Linked DNA regions of Homo sapiens: regions 2, 3, 4, 5 and 6 are each linked to region 1. Evidence: fine-mapped expression QTL. A gene starts in region 1. Each other region holds a variant in brackets. All regions are shown on one strand. Distances are between the middles of the regions. Region 1 holds the start of RFWD3 (ring finger and WD repeat domain 3). Region 2 overlaps GLG1 (golgi glycoprotein 1). Region 3 overlaps GLG1 (golgi glycoprotein 1). Region 4 overlaps GLG1 (golgi glycoprotein 1). Region 5 overlaps RFWD3 (ring finger and WD repeat domain 3). Region 6 has its middle 6.1 kb from the start of GLG1.

Evidence for each region. PIP is the estimated chance that this variant, and not a neighbour inherited with it, causes the effect. A credible set is the group of variants that fine-mapping cannot tell apart.
Region 2: its variant is the best candidate, but not a certain one, in a credible set for the expression of RFWD3 in blood mononuclear cells (TOPMed, PIP 0.60).
Region 3: its variant is the best candidate, but not a certain one, in a credible set for the expression of RFWD3 in unexposed skin (GTEx, PIP 0.86).
Region 4: its variant is the best candidate, but not a certain one, in a credible set for the expression of RFWD3 in whole blood (TOPMed, PIP 0.88).
Region 5: its variant is the best candidate, but not a certain one, in a credible set for the expression of RFWD3 in stomach (GTEx, PIP 0.74).
Region 6: its variant is the best candidate, but not a certain one, in a credible set for the expression of RFWD3 in thyroid (GTEx, PIP 0.64).

The regions. Positions count from the first base shown.
Region 1 is chr16:74,664,444-74,669,778 of GRCh38, forward strand. RFWD3 (ring finger and WD repeat domain 3) reads right to left here and starts at 2,434. Exons shown (of 13, transcript NM_018124.4): 1 at 2,343-2,434. It also overlaps the pseudogene TMPOP2. RefSeq lists a silencer at 1,964-2,113.
Region 2 is chr16:74,453,078-74,458,412 of GRCh38, forward strand. It overlaps GLG1 (golgi glycoprotein 1), which reads right to left. Exons shown (of 26, transcript NM_001145667.2): 24 at 4,797-4,917; 25 at 3,572-3,678; 26 at 1-257. The coding sequence ends at 90. It also overlaps the pseudogene RNU6-237P. Among named protein-coding and RNA genes, the nearest start is that of CLEC18B, 34 kb to the left of the region's middle. The variant G/C (reference allele first, on the strand shown) is at 2,420.
Region 3 is chr16:74,526,128-74,531,462 of GRCh38, forward strand. All of the region lies in intron 2 of GLG1 (golgi glycoprotein 1), which reads right to left. Among named protein-coding and RNA genes, the nearest start is that of GLG1, 78 kb to the right of the region's middle. The variant T/G (reference allele first, on the strand shown) is at 2,759.
Region 4 is chr16:74,559,864-74,565,198 of GRCh38, forward strand. The region is part of intron 1 of GLG1 (golgi glycoprotein 1); the gene reads right to left. Among named protein-coding and RNA genes, the nearest start is that of GLG1, 45 kb to the right of the region's middle. The variant T/G (reference allele first, on the strand shown) is at 2,556.
Region 5 is chr16:74,640,899-74,646,233 of GRCh38, forward strand. RFWD3 (ring finger and WD repeat domain 3) reads right to left here. Exons shown (of 13, transcript NM_018124.4): 5 at 3,643-3,837; 6 at 3,464-3,555. Among named protein-coding and RNA genes, the nearest start is that of RFWD3, 23 kb to the right of the region's middle. The variant T/A (reference allele first, on the strand shown) is at 3,362.
Region 6 is chr16:74,610,541-74,615,875 of GRCh38, forward strand. It overlaps the pseudogene HSPE1P7. Among named protein-coding and RNA genes, the nearest start is that of GLG1, 6.1 kb to the left of the region's middle. The variant T/C (reference allele first, on the strand shown) is at 2,767.

The DNA.
Region 1 (5,335 bases):
TTTAAATTAAATAAAAATCAAATTCGGCCAGGAGCTGTGGCCCACGCCTATAATCCCAGCACTTTGGGAGACTGAGGCAGGTAGCTGGAGACCAGGAGTTGGAGACCAGCCTGGGCAACACGGCAAAACCCCGTCTCTACAAAAAATACAAAAAAATTAGCCAGCCGTGATGGTGTGCACCTGTGGTCCTAGCTACTTGGGAGGCTGAGGCAGGAGAACCCCTTGAACCCGGAGAGTGGAGGTTACATTGAGCCGAGATCACGCCACTGCACTCCAGACCGGGAGAGAGAGTAAGACTCCGTCTAAAAAAAGAAAAAAGAAAGAAATAAAATAAGTTCCTTTGTCGTGCAGGTCACATTTCAACTGCTAGAAACACACATAGGGCGGGTGACTCCCATACTGGACAGCAGAAATACAGAACACTTTTCTCGTCGCACAAAGTTCTATGGAACGGTGCAGTTCTGGAGCTGAAGCTTCCTAACCACTGTAGGCCAGTCGGAGGTGCCTAGAACGAGAGACCATGGGCTGGGCACCCCAAACCTTGAGGATGTCACACAAACGCTGTTTTTTATGTGTGCTGTGAGCGGTGCTTAAAATGTCAACCTCAGACTTGTCATCTTTGTTACTCAGGTTTCAATCAATGGCCACAACAGGCAGGACGAAAGCCCCTCAATTAAAGGTTGAGAAGAGGTGGGCGGGGGAAGTGTTCAAATCTTTGCTCTGGCCGGTGCAGAGGGTCACGCCTGTGATCCCTGGACACTGAAATGCCCAGGCGGATGGATCACTTACGCTCTGGTGTTCCAGACCAGCTTGGGCAACACAGTGAAATTCCCATCTCTACCAAAAAAGAAAAATAGAACAGGTCAGGCGCGGTGGCTCACACCTGTAATCCCAGCACTTTGGGAAGCCGAGGGCAGACCACTTGAGGTCGGAGTCCCAGAATGGCCAATATGGTGAAACCCCGTCTCCACTAAAAATACAAAAACTACCCGGGTGTGGTGGCGCATGCCTGTAATCCCAGCTACTTGGGAGGCTGAGGCAGGAGAATCGCTTGAACCCGGGAGGCAGAGGTTGCAGTGAGCCGAGATCGCACCACTGCACTCCAGCAGGGGCAACAAAGCGAGACTCTATCTCAAAAAAAGAAAGAAAAAAGAAAAATAAAACAATGAGCCGGGCGTGGTGGCGCGCACCTGTGGTCCCAGCTATTGCGGGAAGCCGAGGTGGGAGGATCCCTGGGGCCCGGGAGTTCGAGACTGCAGTGAGCTCTTCCAGCCTGGGTGCAACAGGGAGACTTTTCTTTCTTTCTTTCTTTCTTTTTTTGAGATGGAGTTTCACTCTTGTTGCCCAGGCTGGAGTGCAATGGCGTGATCTCAGCTCACTGCAACCTCGGCCTCCCGGGTTCAAGCGATTCTCCTGCCTCAGCCTCCCGAGTAGCTGGGAAATGGGGTTTCTCCATGTTGGTCAGGCTGGTCTCGAACTCCTGGCCTCAGGTGATCCGACTGCCTCGGCCTCCCAAAGTGCTGGGATTACAGGCCTGAGCCACCGCTTTTCTCTTTATAACACCTTTTTCTCTTTATAACAGGAAAAAGGGAGGAAGAGAGAGGGAGAGGGAGAGGCGGAGGGGGAAGAGGAGGGAGAGGGAGACGGGAGGGGAAGGGAGAGAGGGAAAGAAGGAAATTAAATCCCTGTTCTTTTACTACATGGGGAAAGAAAGACATAGATAGATTAGATAGACAGATTAGATAGATAGATAGATAGATAGATAGATAGATAGATAGATTGATTAGATACATAGATATTAAATCCCTGTTCTTTTACTACATGGGGAAACTTTGGGCGGGTTTCCTAAACTCGGCTCAACTTGTTCTCCTGTAAAACAGGGATAATACAAGTCTTTACTCCACAGTTTCCGTGATGAAATTAAAAATGAAGTTCTTCCATCAACTTTAAAGTGATGAAGTAATCGGCGCTCAGAGCGGGCGCAGGCAACGCCGCTGAGGAGCCCGAGGCTAGGCTCTCGGGGGAAGGGCCGGGCGACCTCCCACCCCGGCCAGGGCAGGCCCCGCAGCAGCGAACTCGGCTCCTTCAGTGATCGCCCCGAGCTCTCGCCTGCCCAGCCCCCACGCCCAGCAACCCAGATACGCGCGGGGGTTCGGGCTCCTTAGCCCCGACCACTGGCGCCGCCCCGAGGGCCCGAATCCCCTCAGGCCGCCGGGTTCCAAGCCCGCGTGCAGCCCACCTCGTGGGGTGTCTCCTGAATCCCAATCCAGGAATCAGGCGTGGGGAGGTTTATCCCGAAGCTAGAGGCCCAAGGCCTGAGGAGAAGCAACACCCCTCCTCACCTGAAACCAGCAGGCCGCGGCCGGGCTCGCGAGCCCGCCGAAGACTCGGTAGTTACCTCGGCCGCACTCCGAATGCACCTACGCCAACTGCCACTTCCGGAGCCGCTCAAGCTCCCGCCAGAGCCGCCGGCAGGCATGCTCCTATTGGACAGAAGCCCTACGCTGTGGCCAATACCCACTCTTCTTCTTCAATGGGTCCCCCGATAGCTGAAGCAGCGGTGCTCTCATTGGCTGGTAGTTCGTCCTGACGAGGCGGGACCGCGCTTGAGGAAGCCTCCTACAATTGGCAGGAATCTACGTCCGTCACCTTGCACCCGCCCCGGAAAAAATGGGAGGTTTTTTTGTTTTTTTTTTGTTTGGTTTTTTTTTTTTTTTTTAGCGCGTTTTATTTGAACTTTCTGGCGGGAGAAAGTTATATGATTTCTCGGTCCATTTTGGAATGGGGATGATGATATTAAAACTGACTCCTGCTGCTTATCCCTAACGCTTTAGTGAAGGAGTTATCTGTATCCAAAGGATAGCAGCTAATCGAATAATTTCAAAATATTTCAATATTTTGAATTTCGGAGCCTGTAAAGAGGCGTAGGACAGTCCAGTTCATATGTATCCTCTCATGGGGTTGAAGAGCTCACGCAAAATACTTTGCCTACATAATCTCTTCAATCTCAAACCGCTGCAAGGGATCTGAGCTACTGAACAGTCTCAAATCACTTGTTAGGGCCGCCGCTCGCCGCCAGCGCCAAAAGAAAGGGGCCCCCGGAATTCTCCAGCTACGTACGAGGAGCGCGAGCCCACAGCCGTCTCGGCTCCGAGCCCGCCGCCGGCAGGAAAGCCACAAAGAAAACTGATAAACCCAGACAAGATGATAAAGACGATCTAGATGTAACAGAACTCACTAATGAAGATCCTTTGGATCAGCTTGTGAAATACGGAGTGAATTGTGGTCCTATTGTGGGAACAACCAGGAAGCTGTATGAGAAATAGCTTTTGAAACTGAGGGAGCAAGGAACAGAATCAAGATCGTCTCCTTCAGCAACAATTTCTTCTTCAGCAGAAAATACAAGGCAGAATGGAAGTAATGATTCTGACAGATATGGTGAAAATGAAGAAGACTCTAAATTGGGCTCAAGTTTGAGAAGAGAGAACCGCTAAACAGGGGAGTAAAGACTCCAGTAACCCTCAAGCAAAGAAGAGTTGAGCACAAGGAGAGCTATTCTCAAGCTGGAATAACTGGGACTGAATGGACAAGTGGATCTTCAAAAGGCGGACCTCTGCAGGCATTATTAACTAGGGAATCTACAAGAGGGTCAAGAAGAACTCCAAGCAAAAGGGTGCACGCTTCAGAATATTTTCGTATAGATGGAGCAGTAATTTCAGCGAGTACTCCCATAGCTGAAACTATAATTGCTTCAAACAACGAATCCTTAATTGTCAATAGGGTGACTGGAAATTTCAAGCATGCATTTCCTATTCTGCCAGTCACTGAATTCTCAGACATACCCAGAAGAACACCAAAGAAACCATTGACAAGAGCTGAAGTGGGAGAAAAAAAACACAGGAAAGAAGAGTAGAAAGGGATATTCTTAAGGAAATGTTCCCCTATGAAGCAACTACACCAACAAGAATTAGTGCTAGTTGCCGCAGAACAATCAAAGGAGCTGCAGGCCGGCCATTAGAACTCAGTGATTTGAGGATGGAGGAGTCGTTTTCATCTACATATGTTCCTAAGTATGTTCCCTTGGCAGACGTCAAGTGAGAAAATACAAAAAAAAGGGACGCTCCATTCCTGTATGGATAAAAATTTTGCTGTTTGTTGTTGTGGCAGTTTTTTTGTGTGTGTTTGGTCTATCAAGCTATGGAAACCAACCATGTAAATCCCTTCTCTAATATTCTTCCTGATGACTCTAGAAAACCCAACTGAATGGTATCTCTTTGGCACATTCAACTTGGTCTTGTATTTTTAGTAACTGTGTTGAAGAACATTCGTGTACGCTTTTTGACTCCAAGAACTAAAAATAATGTGATTTTGCCTCAATAAACGTAGTATTCCATTGGAAAGCAAACAAAAGATATATGAATGGACTTTATTAAAATGTTTTTGAACTTTGGACTAGTAGGAGATCACTTTGTGCCATATGAATAATCTTTTTTAGCTCTAGAACTTTTTTTTTTTTAGACAGGGTCTCGCTCTGTTGCCCAGGCTGGAGTGCAATGGCATGATTTCGGCTCACTGCAACCTCCACCTCCTGGGTTCAAGTGATTCTCCTGCCTCAGCCTCCTGAGTAGCTGGGATCACAGGCACGTGCCACTACGCCCACCTAATTTTTGTATTTTTAGTAGCGGTGGGGTTTCACTATGTTGGCCAGGCTGGTCCTGAACTCCTGACCTCAGGTGATCCACCCGCCTTGGCCTCCCAAAGTGCTGGGATTATAGGCGTGAGCCACCGCGCCCGGCCATAATGTTCATGATCTTGATAGAGTTTGGATTACTCATATGTATGCATTTGTCAAAACTCATCAAATGCTATCTTTAAGATTTGTGCATTTCACACAAATTTTTCACAGCAAAAACTTACCTTCCCACCCCCCCGCCAAAAAAAAGCTCATAGAGAGATAAACTCCAGTTAATGGCATAAATGCTGAAGTGTTTAGGAATGAAGTGCATAAAAAATCAGGATGAATTAATGGCTAGAAAGAGGCACAAGCAGATAAATAGGTATGTGATAAAACAAATATAATAAATTGTTAGTTGTAGAATTTAGGTGGTAGGTATATGGTTGTTCAGAGTACAATTGTACTGACTTTTCTGTGTATCTGGAAATTTTCATACATAAGTGTTGGGAAAAATCAGGTACAGGGCCTTGGAAGGCATCCTGTGCAAGTAAAAGGCCCTGAAGATTAAGCTTTATCAGGCTTATAGTAAATTCACCTATAATAATTGTGGGTCTGCCAGAGTATGAATAATTCATCTACCAGGGAGAATTTTCACTGTAA
Region 2 (5,335 bases), 210 kb before region 1:
GAGAAGAGCGAGGTGAGTGGGGATGCTATACAAGAGGGCTGTACAAACTGGGCACTGGATAGGTAGTTCCTTTGGTGGTCAAGGTGGCTCTACCTGTCCTTGAGCTCTCGTGTCACTCGCTTGGTGATCCGTCCACACATCAGGCCAATCAGGAACAATATACAGATGCTCCCACTGATCACAGAGAGAATGTAGTTCTTAGATGGAGACGTCATTACTTGCATGGCAAGATCAGAGAAGCCATCTGCTGGGGCCACCTAGAATGACACAAGGCAATGTGATTCTCTGAGAGAGCACTGGGCTGGTGGCAGTGCTAGGTCTAACTTATCCCTCTCAGTTCCTAGTTTAATTTATGTCTTTTCTTTTGGAGAGGGAGGGCAGGAGATAAGAAAAATCAACACAGAGCTACAACTCTTTTTCCTGATCATAAAACTATACACACGTCTACTGCACAAAATTAGAAATACAGAAAGAGACAAAGTGGTGCAGTCACCCACAATTCCATCACAGTGATCACCACTAACACCAGGACACTGAAGATGTGTCGGGCCCTGGACGAAGGGCTCCCCCTGCCCTCACTCATTTAGCACTCACACCAAGCCTAGCAAGCAGATTTCACCACTCCCATACTCTGGATGGAGAATCAGTGCCCAGGGGTGAGTGTGGTTAAATGACTTCTATAAGGCCATGGGTTCTTCTATCTTTTGGTTTATGCTCTTTAAATGCGTTTGCTGCCTTTCTTTAAAAAACAAAGATAAAAGTTGACATCGTTTTACATATTCTATATTTTGTAAATTCTATTTTTTTTTTTTTTTGAGACAAAGTCTTACTGTTACCCAGGCATTGTGCAGTGGCATGATGTCAGCTCACCACAACCTCTACCTCTCAGGTTTAAGCGATTCTCCTCCCTCACCCACATGAGTAGCTGGGACTACAGGTGCACGCCACCATGCACAGCTAATTTTTTTGGTATTTTTAGTAGAGACGGGGTTTCACTGTGTTGGGCAGGCTGGTCTTGAACTCCTGACCTCGTGATCCGCCCACCTCGGCCTCCCAAAGTGCTGGGATTACAGGCATGAGCCACTGCGCCCGGCCTTGTAAATTCTATATTATTTCTAAATTTTATATTTTGGCTTTTTTTTCATTGAGTTGGGGTCTCGCGCTGTTGCCCAGGTTGGTGTACAGTGGTGCGATCACAGCTCACTACAACCTCAAACTCCTGAGCTCAAGGGATCCTCCTACCTCAGCCTCCTGAGTAGCTGAGACTACAAGTGCACCACCATGCCTGGCTAATTAAAAAATTTTTTTTGGCCAGGCATGGTGGCTCACGCCTGTAATCCCAGCACTTTGGGAGGCTGAGATGGTGGACCATGAAGTCAGGAGTTCAAGACCAGCCTGGCCAACATGGTGAAACCCTGTCTCTACTAAAAATACAAAAGTTAGCTGGGCGTGGTGGCGCTCGCCTGCAATCCCAGCTACTGGGGAGGCTGAGGCAGGATAATTGCTTGAACCCGGGAGGCGGAGGTTGCAGTGTGCCAAGACTGCACTACTGGACTCCAGCCTGGGCAACAGGACGAGAATCCGTCCCCAAAAAAAAAAAAAAAAAAAAAAAAAAAAAAAAAATTTTTTTTTTTGTTAGAGATGGGGTCTCCCTATGTTGCCCAAGCTGGTCTCGAACTCCTGGGCTCAAGTGATCCTCCTGCCTCGGTCTCCCAAGGTGCTGGGATTATAGGTGTGAGCCACTGCACCCAGCCTGTATTTTGACTTTTTTCATTCACCATTATATCATAAGCATTTCCCACATCAAAAACAATGTGCAGGCCGAGACCAGCCTGGACAACATAGCCAAGACCTTGTCTCCACAAAAAATTATAAAATTAGCTGGGTGTGGTGGCGTGCACCTGTGGTCCCAGCTACTCAAGGAGGATCACTTGAGCCCAGGAGTTCGAGGCTGCAGTGAGCCATGTTCACACCACTGCACCGCAAACAAGACTTATATTGACAGAATATATTTAACCGCCCTCCACTTGTGGACATTTATAATTTAACCTCAGCTATCTTTCATCCTCAGTTTTCCACTGCTTTCCCTAACGGACCTTGATGGTAGCCTGCTATGGCAGAATCAGGACCAAAAGGGTCCCCAGGTGCACATGTCCCCATTCTTTTGCATCCCAGCCTGGCTGCTGAGATGGTGTGGCCCAGAGGCATCTGGGCTGTTTCTATGCTCATATCACGTACACAGAACAGAGTAGGGAGGCGTGAGATGAATGAGATTTGAGCTCCAATAGTTGCCAACACAAAACAAGCCGTGAATTACTCTGAGTCACTCTGAAGCAATAATACACAGCTCAAAGGACTGGACACAATGAGGCAGAATGAAGTAACGCAGCATCTCCTGCTGCCGCTTCCCTGAGCCACC[G/C]GCTTTAAAGGCAACTTTCTTCCCTTGGCAGAAGGGTGAGGAGAGTGTTGACTACTGTGACAGACAGGAGCCCTCCCTTGTACCTTCCTGCTGTCGACCTATGAAGACTTTCTCTGATTGTTCCTCTTGACTTGTTACCCTTGACTTGGAAGTAAAAGGGTGATAAAATTGGCCAGGAAGGAGGGGTGGTCCTGGGATTACTCTCTTGATCTTAGGCCACTGCAGATGTCTATCCCAATATGAGTCAATACAAAAGCATGGCTCTAAAAACCAGAGGGACTCTGGGCAAGTCGTGACCTCTGAAGTCAGTTTCCTTCACTGTAAAGTGACGAAACAGTCATTATACTTACCTCACAGGGTTTCAAAGTTCAAATCAGGCAATACGTCCACCAAAGCGTTATGTAAACTACAAAGCAATGTATGCACGAGAAGAACTGTTATTCTTCTCACTGAGGCTGAACCTCTGTAGGAAAAATTACCCCTAGCCCAAGTCTACCTGGGTATCATACACATTCATGAGTGTCCTACAGTCTTTCTTCATCCCCTTCTTCTCCATGTTCCAGACCAGATGAGTACTGGCCTCAAATATGTATTTTTCTCCTAAAGACTGTAAAATGATAAAAGCAAGCTTCATCATAGGCGAGGCTGGATTTCTTTCTTTTGCCATGGGTGTGACATCTCTTTTGTCTTTGGGTGACTCACTTTTCAGCGGTGAACAGTGGGCGAAATGAGAAAGGAGGGCCCTGGCAAAGCCTTGCAGACAGCCCGATGCACAGGGAGACGGCTCCAGGCTCACGGGCAGCCAAGGAATTCTAAAAGCACACTGACCATGTTTACTGTTTTTTAGTAGAGACGGGGTTTCACCGTGTTGGCCAGGTTGGTCTCGATCTCCTGACCTCGTGATCTGCCTGCCTCGGCCTCCCAAAACGCTGAGATTACAGGCGCGAGCCACCGCGCCCGGCCCTGACCACGTTTTCAAACGCACTTATTGCTAGTCTCACAATAAGGACAAGACCAGTGCGATATCTAAAAGAGGCTGGACAGCCACAGCGAGGAGAGTGGCATGGCCTTTGCTCAAGGATGACATGCAAATTGGTGAAGTGTTCCATATTTTTTTGTTTTTTTAAAAAAGGAGATTCTCTTGGTCATTACCTTTGCTGCGTAACTCCACATCTCAATCCGGTCATTGAGGCGCTTTTTGCACTCGGGCTGTAACCTCACCCGCTTATCCTCCAGTGCTTCCATGAGACAGGACATTTCTGTGGGAGGAAATGAATAATAAGAAGAACCTGAAACTGTACAGAATAGAGAAATTTCTGTAAAGATGAGGAAGAGGGTGCACAACCACCAGAGAATTCAGATCTGCAGGCTCAACAAAGTTAAATACATACTAGGAAACTTGATCCAGGATCCAACAATGGAGAGAAATGATATGTAACCTCCAGGGTTGGCGTCCGAAGCCTCTCTTAAAACCTCCTTATTTTTAGAGCCAGGTGTGGTGGCAAACACCTGTAATCCCAGATACTTGGGAAGCTGAGGCAGGAGGATCCCTTGAGCCCACGACTTTGAGACTACATTATAGTAAGACCTTGTTTCAAAAAATTAAAACGAAAACAGGCTGGGCATAGTGGCTTATGCCTGTAATCCCAGCACTTTGGGAGGCCGAGGTGGGTGGATCACTTGAAGTCAGGAGTTTGAGACTAGCCTGGCCAACATGGCAAAACCCTGTCTGTACTTAAAAAATACAAAAATGAGCCAGGCATGGTGGTGGGTGCCTGTAGTCTCAGTTACTCAGGAGGTTAAGGTGGGAAAATCACTTGAACCCAGGAGGCGGAGGTTGCAGTGAGCTGAGATCATGCCACCACACTCCAGCCTGGGTGACAGAGTGAGACTCTGTCTCAAAAAAATAAATAAAAATACAAACAAACAACTTCTATTAGTTTTATTGGGTATACGTGGCTCAAAAAGAACTCTCACACTTGCCTTGGCTCCCTCCTCACACAGAACCTGTCTACTGAGTCCACTGTCGTCACCGGGGAAGTGTGTGAAGCTGGCTTCTAGTTTCGGCACCAGGAAAAGGACCATGATGATGACTTTAACTTCTGCTTCCCTAATAAATACCTCAATTCTCCCTGTTCATCAAATCTTTAGCTCCAGTCATGACAAGGCCAGTTCAAACTCGCAGGCTTATTCCTAAATTCATGATGCCATAAAGGTCTAGTTTTGGCATCACCCAGGTCCCCAGGGAATGTTGTCTATGACTGGGCTACAACTACAGACCATACAGACCACAGTAGCTGCAACTGATGTCTAAGAGGGAGTCTTTGCTCTTCCCAAGAGAGTTCAGACAGGATCAAGAGTGAACACAGAGACTTACGACGCCCGCGGCCAGGGGTGATGGCTGCGCAGTGGTGTTTAATGTCCAGGGCACAAGCAGTATGAAGTACCGGGTCAACAAAGATGTCTGCTTTGCTTTCCTTCAGCATGTTTAGCACTTCCTGGAAAGGGAGGGTCATTGCAGACAGAGCTTTTGAAGGGGAAATGCATCAGATCTGTTGTCTGTAAATACTTCATATACTAATAAAAAAGGGGGGAAGTTGAGGGCTAACAACAGAGACCACTTTGGGACAGGTTGCAAGGTGGTGATGATGTACAGAATGCAGAATTTAATTGAGTAACTAACTACTTTTAGGGATACAAAACTGTGTGTTGGAAAAAAGCAGGGGACTGTAAGTGACTGTAAGATCAGATTTGTGTTTTTGGCATTCCCGTATGTCATGTCGTATCATTTTAAAATACCTAAACGTTAATATTTTTATTGGTGTGATACAATTACTGTGTTACTTTAAGAAATATGAAAACGTGAAATCTTAAAATCAGAGTAATATGCTATATTAAAATTCTCAATCGGGACTG
Region 3 (5,335 bases), 140 kb before region 1:
ACAAACAGTTTTAAAGTAAAATATAACTTGTACATAAAATATAACATAATGGAAGGTCATTGTACTCTCCAAGGGAGAAAGAGAAGACTTGAGAGTTGGTGATGGTTGGTAAAGGCAGGGTATGAGGGAATCATTCTCTGGAAAGTAATGTAAAATCAGATGACTGACTATGAGGCAGGCATTCAGTATCAGTATGAAGACATATTTTATGGTAATTCTTTTCCTTAGAACTTTGGCACTTAGAAAAAACTGATGTGGAAAGATTCATGACATTACCTGTAGATGAATCTTTGAGATTTAAAAAATACACTTTGGGCCGGGTATAGCAGCTTACACCTGTAGTCCTAACACTTTGTGAGGCTGAGAAGGTTGGATTGCTTGAGCCCAGAAGTTAGAGGTCAGCCTGGGCAACAAAGTGAAACCCCATCTCTACAAAAAATACAAAAATTAGCAGGGCATGGTGGTGTGCATCTGTAGTCCCAGCTACTCAGGAGGCTGAGGTGGGAGGATCACTTGAGCCTGGGAGACTGAAGCTGGAGTGAGCCGTGATCACACAACTACACTCCAGCCTGCGTGACAGACCAAGACCTTGTCTCAAAAAGCAAAACAAAACCAACACCAAAAACCACTTTTTGACATGGAGAAATACTGTATGTGCAAGACACACTGAAGAGGAACAGAAGATGCTACTTGATCACTTCCTGCTATCACTCCTTTAGCACTCCTAACTATGAGGTAGAATTCAAATTTGTTCCATGTGATAGTCTGACTAGTGTTGAGTAAGTCGCTACACGCAAATTTGCTTAGAACAATAATGTCTCAGGGCATAATCTGTGTTTTGGGTAAAGTGCTATCAACCTGTAAGGGTCATGATGGCTAAATACCATTAACTGAACAATCATTATGTGAAACAAATCTGTATCCTGATTATACATCCTTAACTTGGTCACAGTCGAAATTGAATTGATATTATGCTACCTCATACACAATATAAGAATATTCCAAAGTAAAATTATATTTTTATTCCTACCCACCCTTTGTGCTACTGTTGTCATATATTTTATTCTACATGTTATAATCTGAAAGTATACTGTTATTGTTTTGGCTTAAGTCAGTTCTTTTTTTTTTTTTTTTTTTTTGAGATGGAGTTTTGCTCTTTTTGCCCAGGATGGAGTGCAATGGCGCTATCTCGGCTCACTGCAACCTCTACCTCCCAGATTCAAGTGATTCTCACGCCTTGGCCTCCTGAGTAGCTGGGATTACTGGTGTGCACCACCACACCCAACTAATTTTTATATTTTTAGTGGAGATGGGGTTTCACCATGTTGGCCAGGCTGGTCTCGAACTCCTGACCTGAGGTGATCCACCCACCTCAGCCTCCCAAAGTGCTGGGATTACAGGCGTGAGCCACCACGCCTGGCCAAGTCAGTTATCTTAAAGCATGAAAGAATAATAGTCATACGTATCAATTATTTTTCTCTTCTAGTGCTCCTACTTCTCTGCTTCAATTTGTGATCCTTTTACCTTCAAGAATTTAGGATTTCTCACAGTGTGCAAATGTGGGAGATGAATATTCTCAGCTTTCGCTTGTCTGATAACACCTATTTTATTTTTTTTGAGATAGAGTCTTGCTCTGTCGGCCAGGGGTGAGTGCCGTGGCGGGATCTCAGCTCACTGCGACCTCTTCCTCCCCAGTTCAAGTGATTCTTATGCCTCAGCCTCCCAAGTAGATGGGATTACAGGTGCGGTGGTTAATTCTTTTTTTTTTTTTTTTTGAGATGGAGTCTCGTTCTGTCACCCAGGCTGAAGTGCAGTGGTGCAGTCTCGGCTCACTGCCAGCTCCACCTCCCAGGGTCACACCATTCTCCTGCCTCAGCCTCCCGAGCAGCTGGGACTACAGATGCCCACCACCACACCTGGCTAGCTTTTTTGTATTTTTAGTAGAGATGGGGTTTCACCGTGTTAGCCAGGATGGTCTCGATCTCCTGACCTAGTGATCTGCCTGCTGGGTTTACAGGCGTGAGCCACAAAACCTGGCCATTTTTGTATTTTTAATAGAGACAGGATTTCACCATGTTGGCCAGGCTGGTCTTCAACTCCTAGCCTCAAGCGATCTGCCTGCCTCTACCTCCCAAAATGCTGGGATTACAGGGGTGAGCCACGGTGCCTGGCCTATTTTCATTTTTTAAAGGGGTATTTTTTGCTGGATATAGAATTCCATGTTGGCATTTTCTCTCAGCATTTTACATTTATTGTTTCATTTGCTCTAGTTTCTACTGCTTGCTTTGTTGAGAAGCCAGCTGTCATTTTCCTTCCCTCAAGAGAATGTCTCTTTTTCTCTGCCTGCTTGTTGAGTTTTCTTTTTATCTTTTCGTTTTGGCAGATTGTTAATAATGTGTCTAGGCTAGGTGTGGTGGCTCACACCTATAATCCCAGTACTTTGGCAAGTCGAGGCGGGTGGATCACCTGAGGTCAGGAGTTCGAGACCAGCCTGACCAACATGGTGAAACCCTGTCCCTACTAAAAATACAAAAGTTAGCTGGGCGTGGTTGTGGGCACCTGTAATCCCAGCTACTCAGGAGGCTGAGGCAGGAGAATCACTTCAACCCCAGAGGCGGAAGTTTCAGTGAGCCGAGATCACACCATTGCACTGCAGCCTCAGTGACAGAGCGAGATTCTGTCTCAAAAAAAAAAAAAAAAAAAAAAAAATTGTTAGGTGAGTATGGATTTCTCTTGAGGTTCACTAAGTTCGTTGAAT[T/G]TATGGGTTAATGCCTCTCATTAGATTTGGAAAACATCTTGGCCATTATTTCTTCGAATACTGCTTCTATCCCATTCTGTCTGCCTTTTTTTTTTTTTTGAGACAGAATCTCGCTCTGTTGCCCAGGCTGGAGTGCAGTGGTACGATAGTGGTTCACTGCAACCTCCACCTCCCAGATTCAAGCAATTCTCCCGCCTCAGTCTCTTGAGTAGCTGGGATTACAGGCACCTGCCACCACACCCAGCTGATTTTGTAATTTTTAGTAGATATGGGGTTTTTTACCGTGTTGAACAGGCTGGTCTCGAACTCCTGACCTCAAGTAATCCACCTGTCTTGACCTCCCAAGGTGCTGGGATTACAGGCGTGAACCACCGCACCTGGCCATGAATCTGTTTTTATGTCCACTAAAGCTGTCTTTTAAAACTACCCATAAGTTCTTAATTTCTGAAATTACATTTAGTCCAAAAATGTCTAATTGATTTTCTTAATAAAGACTAATTCTCGGTTGAAATACTTCATATTTTCATCCATTTTAATTTTCCTCTATTTATAGGAAAATATTTTATTTTCCTCTATTTTATTTATAGGAAAATATTTTATTTTCCTCTATTTTATTAGTTATTTGAAGTCCTTGTCTGCTATTAATAATTCCAATATATGAATTACCTCTTCTCTGGATCTCTCTCTGTTGGCTACTTTATCTCTTGATATCTTCCTGCTTCTTCTCATATCCAGCCATTTCTGATAGCATGCGGGACATTATGAATGGCTATATTATAGAATTTCTGGGTTATATAATTGTTCTCTAAAGAGTCCTGACTGCTTCTTACATAGACCTTCCACCAAATCTCCTGTTTTTTGGATACTATTTGTCCCCCATTTTCAGCAGTATCGTATCCTTCCTATTCCTTGGCTCTTTGAGAGTTCTTTTTTTTTTTTTTTTTTTTTTGTGACGGAGTCTCACTCTGTCACCCAGACTGGAGGGCAGTGGCACGATCTCACTGCAACTTCTATCTCCCCGGTTCAAGCGATTTTCCTGTTTCAGACTCCTGAGTAGCCAGGATTACAGGGGTGTGCCACGACGCCTGGCTAATTTTTTTATTTTTAGTAGAGGGGTTTCACTATGTTGGCCAGGCTGGTCTCAAACTCCCGACCTCAGGTGATCCACCCAGCCTTCCAAAATTCTGGGATTACAGGTGTGGACTACTGCGCCCGGCTGGCTCTTTGAGAGTTCCAAGGCACACATCAACTTTTTTCTGGGTTTCTCTTCTGTCAGATTCAGTCTATTGATGGATTTTGAGGTTTTCCCCTAATCCTTTGCTTTATAAATAATGCCACAACAAATATCCTTTTATAGACACATCTCTATCCATTCTTTTAACTATCCATAAATTCATAGAAGTAGAAATGCTGGGTCAAAACATATGCATTTTAGGTTGACTGTTTTATAGCTTGTTTTTATTCCCATACATAGGCTTGAACAGGGTTCAGCCAACTTCTTCTGCAGAGAGCCAGAAAGTAACAGTTCTCAGGGAACTGTAGTCACTGTTGCAGTTACTCAACTTTGCCATCCTAGTGTGAAAAGCAGCCACTGGCAATACATAAATAAATGGTGTGGCTGTTTCAATAAAATTTTATGTATAAAAACAGGTAGTAGACTGGATTTGGCCTAAGTGTTGTAGTTTTTTGATCTATGGGCTAGAGAATGCTTAAATACACACATCCTTATCAATACTGTGTATTTATCCTTTTTTTTTTTTTCTTTTTAAGAGATGGGGGGCTCACTTTGTTACCCAGGCTGCAGTGCAGTTTTGTGATCGTAGGTCACTGCTACCTCGAACTCCTGGCTCAAGGGGTCCTCCAGCCTCAGCCTCCCGAGTAGTTGGGAGTACAGGTGCGAACCCATTTATCAAATTTTTGATATTTGCTAATCAAATGGATGACAACAGTGCACTCATTTTTTGCTGAATTTTTATGCTTTTGATTCTGAGGGAGAATAAACTTTTTACTGTTTATTGGACACCTTTTTCTTTTCCTGTGAACATTCTATTCATGTCTGTTATGTTTATTAATAGCATTTTCTATTAACAAATATAGTCCTTTTCATCTGCATTGTGAATACTTTTTTACAAAACATTTTTTGGGGAGAAAACTTTCAATGTAATCAGATATAGATGCAGATATATATTTTTAAAACATCATTTGGGGTTGTGTCATATTTAGAAAAGCCTTCCCTCTAATCTTCTAGTATTCTTCTAGTTTTATTTTGTACTTGACTTACCTAGGTTTTCGTAAGAGTAAGTAGTTAACCTAAATAGCCAATCTGTCTCTGCTTATACAGCCTCCGGTCCCATCTACCTTCTATAATGTGATAGAGTGACTTTTGCCACATATAGATGCCTCTTCTAAGACCCAGATCAAGTGTCACCTCTTTTATTTATTGATTTATTTAAGACAAAGTCTTGCTCTGTTGCCCAGGCTGGAGTGCAGTGGCACCATCTCGGCTCAATGAAACCTCCGCCTCCTGGGTTCAAGCAATTCTCCTGCCTCAGCCTCCAGAGTAGCTGGGATTAAAGG
Region 4 (5,335 bases), 100 kb before region 1:
ATTTTAAAAAATAAACCACTGGAGAATTTTAGACTTAATGGAAAAGTTGAGAAGACAGCACACAGAGTTCCCATATGCCTTCTCATTTTCCCCTATTGTTAATAGCTTACTTTATATAGTGCAATCTGTCACAACTAAAGAACCAACAATGGTACACATTTTATTCAGATTGTACTAGGTATTTTATGAGGATGATGGTTAATTTTTTGTGTCAACTTCACTGGGCCACACGCGTTTCGCCAAACATTGTTCTGGGTGGGTCTACGGTGCTGTTTTTGGATGAGATTAGCACTTGGACAGGCAGACTAGCAAAGCAGACTGTCCTTCCCAATGTGGGTGGGTCCCATTCCATCAGTTGAAGGTCTGAATAGAACAAAAAGGCTGAAGCTCCCCCAGGACTCCAGAATCAAAGAAAGGGGGGATTTCCTCCTAACTGCTTTGAATTGGGACCTCAGTTTTTGTCTTTTTTTTTTTTTTTTTTTGAGACGGAGTCTCACTCTGTCGCCCAGGCTGGAGTGCAATGGCACGATCTCAGCTCACTGCAACCTCCGTCTTCCAGGTTCAAGCGATTCTGCCACCTCAGCCTCCCCCCGCCGCCCCCCTGCCCCCGCAGTAACTAGTAACTTGACTGCCATCAAGCCTAGCTAATTTTTGTATTTTTGTAGAGATGGGTTTCAGCATGTTGGCCAGGATGGCCTTGAACTGACCTCAGGTGATCTGCCTGCCTCAGCCTACCAAAGTGCTGGGATTACAGGCATGAGCCACTGCGCCTAGCCCTAAAAACTCTTTATAAAAGGCAAAGCTTAAGCAACTAATTGTAAGAAAAATTAAACCTGAGCTGGGCATGGTGGCTTAGGCCTGTAACCCCAGCTACTTGGAGGCTGAGGCAGGAGGATCTCTGGAAGCCAGGAGTTTGATTGAGACCAGACTGGGCAACACAGCAATCCCATCTCGAAAGAAAAAAAGAAGGGAGGAAGGGAGGGAAAGAAGGAAGGAAAGAGAGAAGCAATTCTGTATATAGAATATGTAAAGAAAGTAAGATATGTTTTTGTAAGGAAAGCTATAAAGGCATAAAAATATGTGTTTGCTGAGAAAAAAAGTTATTTAAAGGTTATTTCAAATTGAATGAATTTTTAGAAGAGATATAGTCTGGCACCACGCAGTCCTGCGCAGTCCTGCACAGTCCTGCTTGGTTGCATGGCAGCACCTGGGGGTGCCCAGCTGGAGGGATGGGGCAGGATCGGGGCCAACAGGCAGCAAGCCAGGATCCTGCAGCAGCCAGCACCTTCCTCCTGCTGGTGTCAGAGCTGGGCATGGGGGGCAGCATGCCTGTGAGTAGCCTCAGAAGGCTGAGGTCCCTGCCCCCAATATTGGCACCTAGGCCTGCACCCTCACACCCTTCATGACCACAACCAAATTTTCTTGTCAATTATGTCTTTAACCATGATCATTTTGTTTCCACAGTTAATTGCTTTATACGGATGCATTTTCTTTAAGCTCTTTACAACCAAGTAAAATCCTAGAGCATTATGTCTTCAAGAACGTTCATGGAAAGTAATGGAAAGGACCCTAATAAGCACTACTGAATACAAGTTTCTGATAACTTTAGGCTCATCTAATTTGGACTGGGTAAGAATTCCCAGAACTTTAATAAAGAGACTGGTTTATAAAACTGCTAACCCAAGCAGGACAAAAATTAACTGAATACTAAGAAAAATACTCTGCCAGATTTTCATGCTAAATCAGCCAGTACTAAAACTGTTAAGATATGCAACTTGAATGAACTCTATGTTCCAAGTCAAATTACCTATGATAACCCATTTAATGAACAGTGCTATGCACCTGAATTGGAGATACAAAATTGGTATTTAACAGGCTATAAATGCAATGTTAAGCATGGAATCACAGAGATCCTGCACAGCCACCTGGTCCTTCCTGAATCCGTAAATCTTCCATTATTAAAAGCTCTGCACTCCATGACTCATCATGGAAGACAGAAAATGATCCAAATAGAAAACATATACATTGGTGTGGTGACTGCTCTAAATCGCTAAAAATGGTTTATGACCAAGGTTTGGCTTATCAAACCTACAACCTGGGAAGATAATTAAAACTTCAGCTACCTGATGGGTCATTGGAACACTTATAGAGGAATTTCATTCAACTGTCATTTTCAACACGTTTTCTGGTAAAAGCTTTCTCATGCAAGAAGGCTGATGCTATAACAGTAGCTAAAAGGTTGTCAGAAAATGTGTTTCCCTCACGGGGCATTCCTGGAGAAATCTCCAGTGATAGTGGTACTTGTTTCACTGGACAAGTTGTAAACAGTTAAGTAAGGTATTACAGACACAACAGCTTTAGGTGAAGCTAACTGAATTGACTGGTTGCCTTGGTCAAAGGTATTGCAGATTGATGACAACCTCATCTGCTTCCAGTAGAAAATATAAGTTGACTCATTATGAAATAGTCACTGGAAGGCCTATGCCACTAATAATAGAACCTCATGTATCTTCCTCTCCCAAACTCTGATATGAATAAATGCTGCAAGCCTTTAA[T/G]GCATTATACCAAAGTGTATTTTCACCAGCTAAAGGAAGCTTTTCTTTTTTTTATTTTCTGTAGATGGTCTCACTCTGTTGCCCAGGCTGGAGAGCAGTGGTGTGATCTCAGCTCTCTGCAACCTCCACCTCCCGGGTTCAAGCAATTCTTGTGCCTCAGCCTCCCAAGCAGCTGGGATTACAGGCATGCGCCACCACACCCAGCTAATTTTTGTATTTTTAGTAGAGATGGGGTTTCACCATGTTGGTCAGGCTGGTCTTGAACTCCTGGGTTCCAGAGACCTGACCTCCAGTGATTCGCCCACCTCGGCCTCCCAAAGTGTAGAGATTACAGGCATGAGCTACCGTGCTGGCAGTAAAGGAAGCTTTTCATGACCCACCCACTGAGGACATTCAAATCCTTCACAATCTAGAACCTGGAGGTTGGTTCTTCTGGAAATGACGTCAGGAAAACACTGCCCTTGTTACCCACAATGAAGCAAAACTCTGGGGCCTCAAACACTGGGTCAATTGATATCACAATGCAGGAGGGCCCCTCCAGACTTGGAATTGTACACCCATTGGAAATCTTAACGTAAAGCTAACCAGTTAGAAAAGGTTTTCCCCCAGAAGCAGATGGCACCCTAGACATGGACAGCTTTCCCAAAAGCATGGATCAAAACTTCTCTGTCATCATGAGACTCTTACCTCTCAATGTTTTCCTTGTTTATGCCTCTATGAACAACAGAAAAGGGGTCTTATGGTGCACCAATGGGGCACACTTTTATTTGTGAAAACTTTTACAGCCAACCTTATCCATAGGCAGCATTATGTCTTAATGGATGAAAGATGACAGTCCAATGTGGGTTAGGAATTTTAATGGTTCTGTCAGAAAGAGAACACTGGTCCACTCCTTTTAACCTACATCAGAGGTGAAAAAGAACACTAGTGCTTGGAAGCCTTCATCATTCTGAATGGCCTTCATTGTTAGGTCACTTTTTCCAGAGTTTGGAGTAAACGATACAGTGTCTAGAAATTTGTCCCTCATGGGCTGGACGCAGTGGCTCATGCCTGTAATCCAAGCACTTTGGGAGGCTGAGGTGGGCAGATCACTTGAGGTCAGGAGTTCAAGACCAGCCTGGTCAAAATGGGAACTCTGTCTCTAGCAGAAACACAAAAATTAGCGGGGCGTGGTGGCGTGTGCCTGTAGTCCCAGCTATTTGCGAGGCTGAGGTGGGAGAACTGCTTGAACCCAGGAGGCAGAGGTTGCAGGGAGCCGAGATCACGCCACTATTCTCCAGCCTGCGCAACAGAGTGAGACCCTGTCTCAAAAAAAAAAAAAAGAAAGAAAAAGAAAAAAAAAAGAAATTTGTTCCTCATGATATGCTCCATAGCAGATTCTACTGCAAAGGCTATGGTTACAAAACAGACTTCTTTAAATTATCTTGCTAAAGGTCTACTGGATAACAGAATTGCTCAAGGTTGCCTACTGGCTAATCAGGGAAGTATCTGTGAAGTTGCTGACACTTTTATTTTTATTCTTTGAGACAGGTTTTTGCTCTGTCACCCAGGCCGGACTGCAGTGGCTCAATCATGACTCATTTAGCCTCAACCTTCTGGGCTCAAGTGATCCTCCCACCCAGCCTCCTGAGTAGTGGAACTACCAGCATGTGCCACGAGGCCCGGCTAATTTTTGTATTTTCTGTAGAGACAGGGTCTTGCTATGTTGCCTACGCTGTCTTGAACTCCTGGCCTCAGGGATCCTCCCGCTTCGGCCTTCCAAAATGCTGGGATTAACAGGTGTGAGCCATCATACCAGGCCTTGCTGACACCTCTTGTTGCACGTGGATGAATATACTGGATATTACAGAGATTCAGTTGTAGGGGATTAATGAACTGGCTGCTTGGTTGAAATGAGTAGATTGTTTATCTTGCTCATTCTTTGATCTATTTGATTTTAGTTGGTTTGGTTCATGCGAACTCTGGCTAAGGAGCATACTCCAAACTCTTAGTATTATCCTCCTAACAGTCATAATAGCAGTCTCCCTGCTGCATTATATTCTCTCAAAAGTTATAAATGTTTGCATGCAGCCATCTATGTAAGTTCAAATGGTCTCTCTTCAGCAGGAATGATAAACACTCAAAGACATGCATGATCATGAGGACACCAAAACCTATGAATAAAGTGCTAGGACTGGAAACCCAAAAGGATGGTAACTGAGTAGCACTAAAGCCCTAAGTTTCAGTAACACTCACACCCAAGTGAGAACCTGACCAAAAAGGCGAAGCTGTTAAACAAAATTGTGAGAGCCCACTGTTTTGGATTAAGCTTATTCACTAGGCATCAATAGGCTAGACCAGATCAAACCTAAATGAAGTCACTCATGCTAAATGCAACATCATCAAATTGAAACTTTAAGGAAGCAGAAAGATCCCAAACAGCCCAGGTTTTTTATTCCTTTCCTAAAAACAAGAGATCCCAGCATAAGGAGGTTGCCCCTGCTCTAATCCCTACAGAAAACTAACCTGAAGTCCTTGTTCCCCACCTTGCAAAAGCCAGTTTTGTTACCTCCCAGTTGGATTTGAGATCAAATAAGTACATTTATGGATGCCTAAAGTTTTGTCAACCTCTCAAAATTGACAAACAATACAAAATTGAGGCCAGATGGGGTGGCTCATGCCTGTAATCCCAACACTTTGGGAGGCTGAGATGAGCAAATCACTGGATGTCAGGAGTTCAAGACCAACATGGTGAAATCTGTCTCTACTAAAAATATAAAAATTAGACAGGTGCAGTAGCA
Region 5 (5,335 bases), 24 kb before region 1:
ACTGCACTCCAGCCTGGGCGACAGAGCGAGACTCTGTCTCAAAATAAATAAAATTCACAAAGGTATGAAAAAATGAGAAATCTCTCCTTTTTTTTTAAACAAGAAAAGTTTAAGTTAGAAAAGTAATTTGACAATATTTAGGTAAAGCTGAAATTAAATGTGCCCTATAATAAAGCAATTCCATTGCTAGACCTCTCTGCAGCATGGCTAATATTAACAAGTGGAGACAACCTAAATGTCTACCAATGTAAAACACAAACAGATAATTTTTTTTTTTTTTGAAGACAGAGTTTCGCCATTGTTGCCCAAGCAGGAGTGCAATGGTGCGACCTCGGCTCACCACAACCTCTGCCCCCTGGGTTCAAGCTATCCTCCTGCCTCAGTCTCCCGAGTAGCTGGGACTACAGGTGCGTGCCACCATGCCCGGCTAATTTTTGTATTTTTAGTAGAAATGGGGTTTCACCATGTTGGCCAGGCTGGTCTCCAACTCCTGACCTCAGATGATCCGCCCACCTCAGCCCCTCAAAGTGCTGGGATTATAGGTGTGAGCCACCACGCCTGGCCTAAACAGATTAATTTTGACTAGAGAACTAGAATATTATCAAGAAATTGAAATGAAAAAAACTAGAGTCCCATGTATCAACTAGGATATACTCCCAAAGCATAAAATTAAGCAAAAAAGCAAGCTACAGAAGAAAAAGTTATAATCTAACATAACATTTGCATACAGTATAAAAACTTTCTGGCCGGGTGCAGTGCCTCACGCCTGTAATCTCAGCACTTTGGGAGTCCAAGGCAGGCTGATCACGAGGTCAGGAGTTCCAGACCAGCCTGGCCAACACGGTGAAACCCTGTCTCTACTAAAAATACAAAAAAAATTAGCTGGGCATGGTGAAAGGCGCCTGTAATCCCGGCTACTTGGGAGACTGAGGCAGGAGAATTGCTTGAACCTGGGAGGCGGGAAGTTGTAGTGAGCCAAGATTGCACCATTGCAATCCAGCCTGGGCAACAAGAGCAAAACTCCGTCTCCAAAAAAAAAAAAAAAAAAAAAAAAAACCAAAGAAACCAAAAACCAAAACAAAACTTTCTATATCATACTATGTATAATTTACAAATACATATATAGCTAATCAAATACATAATAACTCTTGGGAATGCTGAACACCTAATTCATGAAAGTAGTTCTCTATGGAATTAAGAACTTAGTTCACAGGAAGACTTCTAGTGTACCTTTTTAAATTTGACACAGAGTCTTGCTCTGTTGCCCAGGCTGGAGTGCAGTGGCGCAATCTCAGCTTACAGTAACCTCCGCCTCCCAGGTTCAAGCGATTCTCGTGCCTCAGCCTCCCGAGTTGCTGGCATTACAGGCACGCACCACCACATCCGGATAATTTTTTGTATTTTTAGTAAAGATGGGGTTTTGCCATGCTGCTCAGGCTGGTCTCAAACTCCTGAGCTCAGGCGATCTGCCTGCCTCAGCCTCCCAGAGTGCTAGGATTTCAGGTGTGAGCCACTGTGCCTGGCCCTTCTACTGAATCTATAATTAACTTCTTCTTCTTTAAAATTTTCTTTCCTTTTTTTCCTTCTTGACCTGGTCAACAGATTTATCTTTATTTTTTTGAGACAGGTTCTTACTCTGTCACCCAGGCTAGAGTGCAGTGGCATGACCATAGCTCACTGCAGCCACAACCTCCTGGGCTCAAGAAATCCTCTCTCCTGAGTAGCTGAGACTACAGGTGTGTACCACTACACACGGATAATTTTTTTCATTTTTATTAGAAACAAGGTCTCACAATGTTGCCCATGCTGCTCTCAAACTCCTGGTCTCAAGCAATCCTCCTGCCTCGGCCTTCCAAAGTGCTGGGATTACAGGCATGAGCCACTACACCCAGCCTATTTATTTTCAAAAAGGCTCAAAGCAATATGGCAAAACATTAAGATTTGATAAAATTGGGTAAAAGGCTGTTCGTTTTATTAGTCTGTATCGGCATTTTGAAACTCTTCACTTTTTCTAATGAGGCTGGAGAGTATACTAATTCCTTATTGTAATCAGTGAATTGTTTTTAAATATAATCACCCATTACAGCCACACGTATAGATTTTGCCTTTTCAACAAAATTCCTCTCTGTACACATCTTCCATTATTTAAAAACGCTACAAGTGAGCATTGGTTGGACCAAATGAGTAAAAACAAGGAAGAAAACTAAAATAATCTGTACAGTGACTACCTATAGAGCTTTTTTTCTTTCTTTTAAAAAAAATTTTAAATACAGATAGGATCTATGTTGGCCAGGTTGGTCTTGAACTCCTGGTCTTAAGCAATCCTTTTGCCTTGGCCTCCCAAAGTGCTGGGATTACAAGAGTGAGCCACCGCACCAGCCTTACTTTTTTTCTAGTTCACAAAAATGCAATCATACTAATAACATGCTTCCACAGGACAACATATGCACATTTCAACATTGTATTCTGTTCATGCATACACCACCGTTCATTCAACTAAGCAATCCCCTTGCCTTAGATTTTTAACAATGCTAAATGAAGTTTCATTAAGTAAATCTTGGTACACAGCCTTCAATGTTTCTTTAGAATGCCTGAACAATTACTAGATCAAAGGCTTTAGAGACACATTTCCAAGGATGTCTCAAAATGATTTTGCCTGTGTACATCCAAACCAGTAAAGTGTGAACCCATGTCACTGTACCTCTCTCTCAATGGTGTGTATGTTCTTTAATATTTTTGAAGCATATACTGAGTGGTGTTACTAGCAACTGTTTTTTTTTTTTTTTTTTTTTTTTGAGACGGAGTCTTGCTCTGTCGCCCAGGCTGGAGTGCAGTGGTGCAATTTCGGCTCACTGCAAGCTCTGCCTCACGGGTTCACGCCATTCTCCTGTCTCAGCCTCCTCAGTAGCTGGGATTACAGGCGTCCGCCACTATGCCCGGCTAATTTTTTTGTATTTTTTAGTAGAGACGGGGTTTCACCGTGTTAGCCAGGATGGTCTTGATCTCCTGACCTTGTGATCTGCCCACCTTGGCCTCCCAAAGTGCTGGGATTACAGGCGTGAGCCACCATGCCCGGCCCTAGCAACTGTTTTGTGCTTCCGAAATCCTGGTAATTTTTTACATTGCACTGCATGTGCAAAGCTTCACTTATGAGTTTTCTGTATGGAGAACTGCTGTGGCGGGGGGTGGTCAGGGATATGAGAAGCAAAAATGGCAACAGAAGTAATGTGCCAGATCCTTGTGTTTAATGCTCTACATAAGGCAAACGATGCAGACTTCCTTAAGAAGATGATCAGACATGAATTATAAATAACAGTGTAAGACAGACTGCCAATGATCCCCAGAGATCCCAAGTCACAGG[T/A]CAAGTAAAACCTCACTACGAGTGACTCATAACTTCTTTTTCAGATGTGCCTACAATGAACCAAAAGGGAACATTCCAGCCAGGCATACTCTTACCACCTACCTTTTCATGCGCTCCTGTTCACTAGTGTCCAAAGCTCTCAGGGTTCGGGCATAAAGGACGACAATGTCACTGTGCCTGGCTTTCTTGTTGCACTAAAGAACCCAATAGGACATAATTAGAGTGGTTCTAGGAATCTGCCTGACTTAACATGTTAATGTGTCCTTACCTATGGTCCTTACCTGGGGACATTTTCGTACTTGTCCTTTAAGCCACGTGGAAATGCACCTATACCCAAAGAGATGCCCACAGCGTAATGCTGAGAGCCGGTGGTCCCCAGCATTGGTCCACTGTTCCAGACATATTGTACAAGTGTCCCCTTCTTCCTCATCCATAGAAGCAGAAGGTAGCAGAGGCTCAGACTTCTGGGGAGATGGCTAGATGGAAAGCAGAATATATTCAAATTAGAGAAAATGTAAAATCAATCTTGAAGAAGATGTGCAACTAAGAAATTAACAGAAGTGCAAAAAAAATGATACAATCAAAAGGGCTACAGAACACTTGTAACACCTATGAATCACTTGTCATTCTTTCTAGAATGCAATGTCACAAAATATAAGCTATGAAAACTATACTACTCTTAAATCTTATAAAATTCTTGGATACTTTTTCCTTCACTCAAAGGAAGAAAAGCAGCTATCCATATAAAGAATAGCAGCTATAAAATATTTAACTCATGTGTACCAGAGGGCAAAAAAAGAAAACAAAGGATACAAATGCTTACAAGAAAACACAATGGTCAATAAGTGTTTGCTTATAATTAAAGAAATGCAAATTAAAGAGACCATTTTTCATCTATCAGACTGGTATAAATTGATGTCTGATGACACCAAGCACTGTTGTGGGTAAATGAGATATGGACATGCTTATATACTGTTGCCTTAAATGTAAAGTGGCACACATTTCTGGAGCACCATTTGGCATTATCCATGAAAATTAAAACACATATATCTTTCCTTTGGCATAGCAATCTCTCTGCTAGAGATACCTCATGGATATATAGTCATGCATTGCTTGACAATGGGAATACATTCTGAGAAATGCGTCTTTAGGCGATTTCGTCATTGAATGATCCCAGAGGTACTTAAATAAACCTAGACGGTGTAAACTATTACATACTTAGACAACAAACCTGTATAGGATGTTACTGTACCAAATACTGTAGGCAACTGTAGCACAGTGGTGGGTTTCACCATGTTGGCCGGGCTGGTCCCGAACTCCTGACCTCAAGTGATCCGCCCGCCTTGGTCTCCCAAAGTGCTGGGATTATAAGTGTGAGCCACTGCGCCCAGCCTGGTATTATCATCTAATGGGACAACCATCATACATGTGGTCTGTCATAGACTGAACTATTATGCAGCCCATGATCATAGTCACAAATATTTTCTTTTTTTTTTTTTTTTTTTTTTTTTGAGACAGACTCTCGCTCTGTCGCCCAGGCTGGAGTGTAGCGGCAGAATCTCGGCTCACTGCAAGTTCCGCCTCCTGGGTTCACACCATTCTCTTGCCTCAGCCTCCTGAGTAGCTGGGACTACAGGCGCCTGCCACCAAGCCCGATTTTGTGTATTTTTAGTAGAGACGGGGTTTCACCGTGTTAGTTAGGATGGTCTCGATCTCCTGACCTCGCGATCCGTCCGCCTTGGCCTCCCAAAGTGCAGGGATTACAGACGTGAGCCACCATGCCCAGCCAGTCACAAATATATTCTAAGATAATTATATAAGATTGTTCCAAGCAGGCCAGGTGTAGTAATCACACCTACAGTCCCAGCTTATTGGGAGGCCAAGGCAGGAGGATTCCTTGAGCTCAGGAGTTTGAAACCAGACTGGACAACATAGCAAGACCTTGTCCCTGTTAAAAATTTAAAAAATTAGCCA
Region 6 (5,335 bases), 54 kb before region 1:
TCAGCCTCCCCAAGTAACTAGGATTACAGGCGCCTGCCACCACGCCCAGCTAGTTTTTGTATTTTTAGTAGAGAGAGATTTCACCATGTTGACCAGGCTAGTCTCGAACTCCTGACTTCAGGTGATTGCCTGCCTCGGCCTCCCAAGTGCAACCATGAAAAGAGGACTCTAAGTGTTCCAAAATCAGACATTAATAACTAGTTCAAGATTCTAAGGAGGTGGGAATAAGCATTCAAAATGAAGGCCTGCTAGGCATGGTGGCTCACACCTACCTGTAATCCCAGCACTTTGGGAGGCCGAGGCGGGTGGATCACCTGAGGTCAGGCCTTTACTAAAAATACAAAAATTGGCTGGGCATAATGGTGCAACCTATAGTCCCAGTTACTCAGGAGGCTTACGCGGGAAGATCACTTGAAAGCGGCAAGTGGAGGTTGCAGTGAGCTGAGATTATGCCACTGCACTCCAGCCTGGGTGACAGAGTGAGATCCTGTCTCAGAAAAATAAAAAAATTAAAAAATTTAAAAAAAAAGGGGGTCAGGCGCAGTGGCTCATGGATGTAATCCCAGCTACTCGGAGGCTGAGGCAGGAGAACTTCTTGAACCCAGGAGGTGGAGGTTGCAGCTCCGAGCAGAGATCACGCCGCTGCACTCCAGCCTGGGCAACAGAGCGAGACTCGGTCTAAAAAAAAAAAAAAAAACAGTGCCTATCAAAGACTCAGTGTTGCAGGGTGGGCGCAGTGGCTCACGCCTGTAATCCCAGCCCTTTGGGAGGCCAAGGCGGGCAGATGACAAGGTCAAGAGATCGAGACCATCCTGGCCAACACGGTGAAACCCCGTCTCTACTAAAAATACAAAAATTAGCTGGGCGTGGTGGCGTGCGCCTGTAATCCCAGCTACTCAGGAGGCTGAGGCAGGAGAATCGCTTGAACCCAGGAGGCAGAGGTTGCAGTGAGCCGAGATTGCGCCAGGGCACTCCAGTCTGGCGACAGAGCAAGACTCTGTCTCCAAAAAAAAAAGACTCAGTGTTGCTCTCTGTTGCTGACAAGTTGGACATTCAGGGGCAGCAGTAGCTGGATGTACCTTGGTGAGTGGGAGTCCATGCTACTGAGCTCACATGGAACCTGCATGTCTGCTGCTATGGCTGCTCTGTTCACGTGCCCAGAATGTCGGGTCAGGAGGAGCTAGAGGCTAGCTCATGTGAATTGGCTGTGTCATTTTGCTTACTTGGTTGCTCAGTGCCTCTTCTATGGTGGAGGCTTTCTGGAGGGCATTATTAAGAGATACAAAAATCTTTATATATTGTACTCACCCCCACACGTTCATCCACATGCCTCTACTCCAGGCCAGGCCATTGGACTTTGTCCAGGAATCTGTATATATTCTCATCTTACATACAAAGTGGAATGACTAAGAGCACAGCCAGCATTTCCACTAGTTTGGAAAAGTTTTCACTCTCCACCATCTTTCAGAACCACATTTGCATTCTTTAGGTCTGTAATGGTGGCTCTAATCTTCACCAATCCCCATCCTCCCAATGGAACATTTTTTTTTTGTGATTAGTTATCATGAGCTTATTATAAAAGAGAGATATGGAGGCCAGGTGCGGTGGCTTACGCCTGTAATCCCAGCACTTTGGGAGGCCGAGGTGGGTGGATCACGAGGTCAGCAGATCGAGGCCATCCTGGCTAACATGGTGAAACCCTGTCTCTACTAAAAATACAAAAAATTAGCTGGGCGTGGTGGCAGGCACCTGTGGTCCCAGCTACTTGGGAGGCTGAGGCAGAACGGAGAACGGCGTGAACCCGGGAGGTGGAGACTGCAGTGAGCCGAGATTGCGCCACTGCACTCCAGCCTGGGCGACAGAGCGAGACTCTGTCACAAAAAAAAAAAAAGAAAAAGAAAAAAGAGAGAGAGATGGAAATTATTTACATGATGAAAGATTTCAGCTGGGTGCGGTGACTCACGCCTGCAATCCCAGCACTTTGAGAAAGATTTCAGAACTTCAGTGGAATGGGCAGCTTCATGTTGCTGCCATTTTCAATAGTGTCTTATTTCAGTCTACATACTTTCCAAGAATGTCACCATCTCTAAATAGGAAATAATCCTTGTCATCTAGAATTACTTTGGTGCCTCCATGTTCTGGGAGAAGAACTTTATCTCCAACTTTCATGCTAACTGGTTGAATCTCTCCACCTTTTCCTTTAGAACCCGATCCAACAGCGACTACTATTGCTTGCAATACTTTTCCTTGAGATTTTTCTGGAAGCATAATGCCTCCTCTGGTTACAGTTTCAGCAGCGCTCCTTTCAACCAGTACTCGCTCAAAGAGTGGAAGAAACTTTCTTTTTATTTATTTATTTTTTTTGAGACAGAGTCTCGCTCTGTCGCCCAGGCTGGAGTGCAGTCCTGCGATCTCGGCTCACTGCAAGCTCCACCTCCCGGGTTCACGCCATCCTCCTGCCTCAGCCTCCCGAGTAGCTGGGACTACAGGCACACGCTGCCACGCCTGGCTAATTTTTTGTATTTTTAGTAGAGACAGGGTTTCACCGTGTTAGCCAGGATGGTCTCGATATCCTGACCTTGTGATCCGCCCGCCTCTGCCTCCCAAAGTGCTGGGATTACAGGCGTGAGCCACAGCACCTGGCCGAGTGGAAGAAACTTTCTAAACGCCTGTCCTGCCATGACTCCCTCCACCTCAGACTTGTACTCTCGGAACACTGTTTTTGTTTTTTTTGTTTTTTTTTTTTGAGATGAAGTCTCGCTCTTG[T/C]TCCCCAGGCTGGAGTGCGATGGCGCGATCTCGGCTCACTGCAACCTCTGCCACCCGGGTTCAAGCGATTCTCCTGCCTCAGCCTCCTGAGTAGCTGGGATTACAGGAGCCTGCCACCACGCCCAGCTAATTTTTGTATTTTTAGTAGAGACGGGGGTTTCACCATGTTGGCCAGGCTGGTCTTGGACTTCTGACGTCAGGTGATCTGCCCACTTTGGCCTCCCAAAGTGCTGGGATTACAGCCACTGAGCCTGGCCTTGGAACATTGTTTTTAACGTACAATCTTAGCCACGGGTAGGGAGCAATTTCACAGATTTACATCTGGCCTTTCCTGCCCATGATAGTCCCTGCCCCACAGGCCAGAAATACAATGTGGGGTTATTCCAGGTCATTTCCAGTTATACATTTGGGGACTATGTAAATCTCTGGGTGGGTCCACACATCCAGTGAGCTGAGAGCCATACCTTACCACTTTAGGCAGGAGTCCATTTATTACCTGGCCCCTACAGGCCAGGGGGCTATAATGATGTTTTTGGCCTCTAATGATTGATTTCACCTTGAAGTCTGTGTCCGATAGTCTTGAAAATGTTCGGTTACTTCCCTTTTGCCAATGTACAGTCACCCAAGTAAGTAGCCACAAGTTCCTCTGGGGAAGGCCTGAGGGCCCTTGTGCCATGGTACGGCTGCCATGGTGTTGTAGGGTCTTTGGTGTTAGGCTCCTGGCCACCACTTTCATCAATGGATTCTGGATCTGAAAATTGGCTCAGATTGGGCAGGGAGCAGTGGCTCACACCTGTAATCCCAGCACTTTGGGAGGCTGAGGTGGGCGGATCATGAGGTCAAGAGATTAAGACCATCCTGGCCAACATGGTGAAGCCCCGTCTCTACTAAAAATACGAAAATTAGCTGGGTGTGGTGGCACATGCCTGTAGTACTAGCTACTCAGGAGGGTGACGCAGGAGAATTGCTTGAACTTGGGAAGTGGAGGTTGCAGTGAGCCAAGATCACACCTCTGCACTCTAGCCTGGGTGACCGAGTGAGACTCCATCTCAAAAAAAAAAGCCTCAGCTCTAGAAGCTGGGCAAAGGAGCATGACTTATTGGGGGTGACCACCCTTAGCCTCCTGTTCCTCCATTCTTGTGGACCTTATTGGCTATAGATGTTGAATAGTTCCCTTGCTGGTCTTGGGTGATGTTATCCTTTATTAACCATCTCTATACTCCCCGCTGGTCAAGACCCCTTGGTCGCTATTTTCTTATTATTTTTTGAGATGGAGTCTTGCTCTGTCACCCAGGCTGGAGTGCAGTGGCACAATCTCGGCTCACTGCAACCTCTGCCTCCCGGGTTCAAGAGATTCTCCGGCCTCAGCCTCTCGAATAGCTGGGACTACAGGCGTGTGCCACCACGCCCAGCTAATTTTTGTGTTTTTAGTAGAGACAGGGTTTTACCATGTTGGCCAGGCTGGTCTTGAACTCCTGACCTCAAGTGATCCTCCTGCCTCGGCCTCCCAAAGTGCTAGAATTATAGGTATGAGCCACCGCATCTGGCCCTTGGTCATCACCTTTGATCTTGCTGGTAATGGTGGTAATTGTGGTCTCCTGGCTTCTGGCACTTAAACATTGCCACCGGGTCTTTATTATTCTGGGGCCCTAGTCAGCCCCGTCTTACCACCTGTTTTCTTGGAACACTCCTGGCACTACTTGTGTGAGTCCAGGTCTGCCAGGAAGCAGACAACAAAAGGGGATTACCTATGCAAGAAATTTATTAGGGGCAACAGTTGTAGGAAAAATGAGGTGGCTGAGAGAGCCATGTGACCATGATGCTGGTCCAACACTGTGTGAAGTACAGAGGGAGGGAAGGAAGGACGGGAGGATTCGGTGGAAACATCTAAGACTCAACTTAAACTGAAATTCATTTCTAAGAAAGTCAGCCAAGGTCCGGCACGGTGGCTGACGCCTGTAATCCCAGCACTTTGGGAGGCCAAGGCAGGCAGATCACCTGAGGTCGAGAGTTCGAGACCAGCCTGACCAACATGGAGAAACCCCGTCTCTACTAAAAACACACAAAAAATTATCCGGGCATGGTGGTGCATACCTGTATTCCCAGCTACTCGGGAGGCTGAGGCAGGAGAATCACTTGAACCCAGAAGGCGGAGGTTGCAGTGAGCCAAGATCTCCAGCCTGGGCAATAAGACCAAAACTCCGTCTCCAAAAAAAAAAAAAAAAAAAGAAAGTTGGCCAAGGCCATAGGATAGTCCTCATGCAAAAGTTACCTGTCACTGAGTCTTCCAGAAATGGGCCTGCGTCAGTAGCCCTATCACTCTTAGTCAAGACTAGGAGGATCCTTGGGATGAATGCAGTTGTAGATTTCAGTGCTCAGCAGATCAAACAGAGGTCAATCATGTTCCCCACAGCTGGAGATCTGAGAGGCTCATTTTCAAGGTCACCACATCTGAGTAACTTCTTTAACTAGAGAATCTCTTTCATATAAAAGGCATAGCATGGCTGGGCGTGGTGGCTCACGCCTGTAATCCCAGCACTTTGGGAGGCCAAGGCGAGCAGATCACCTG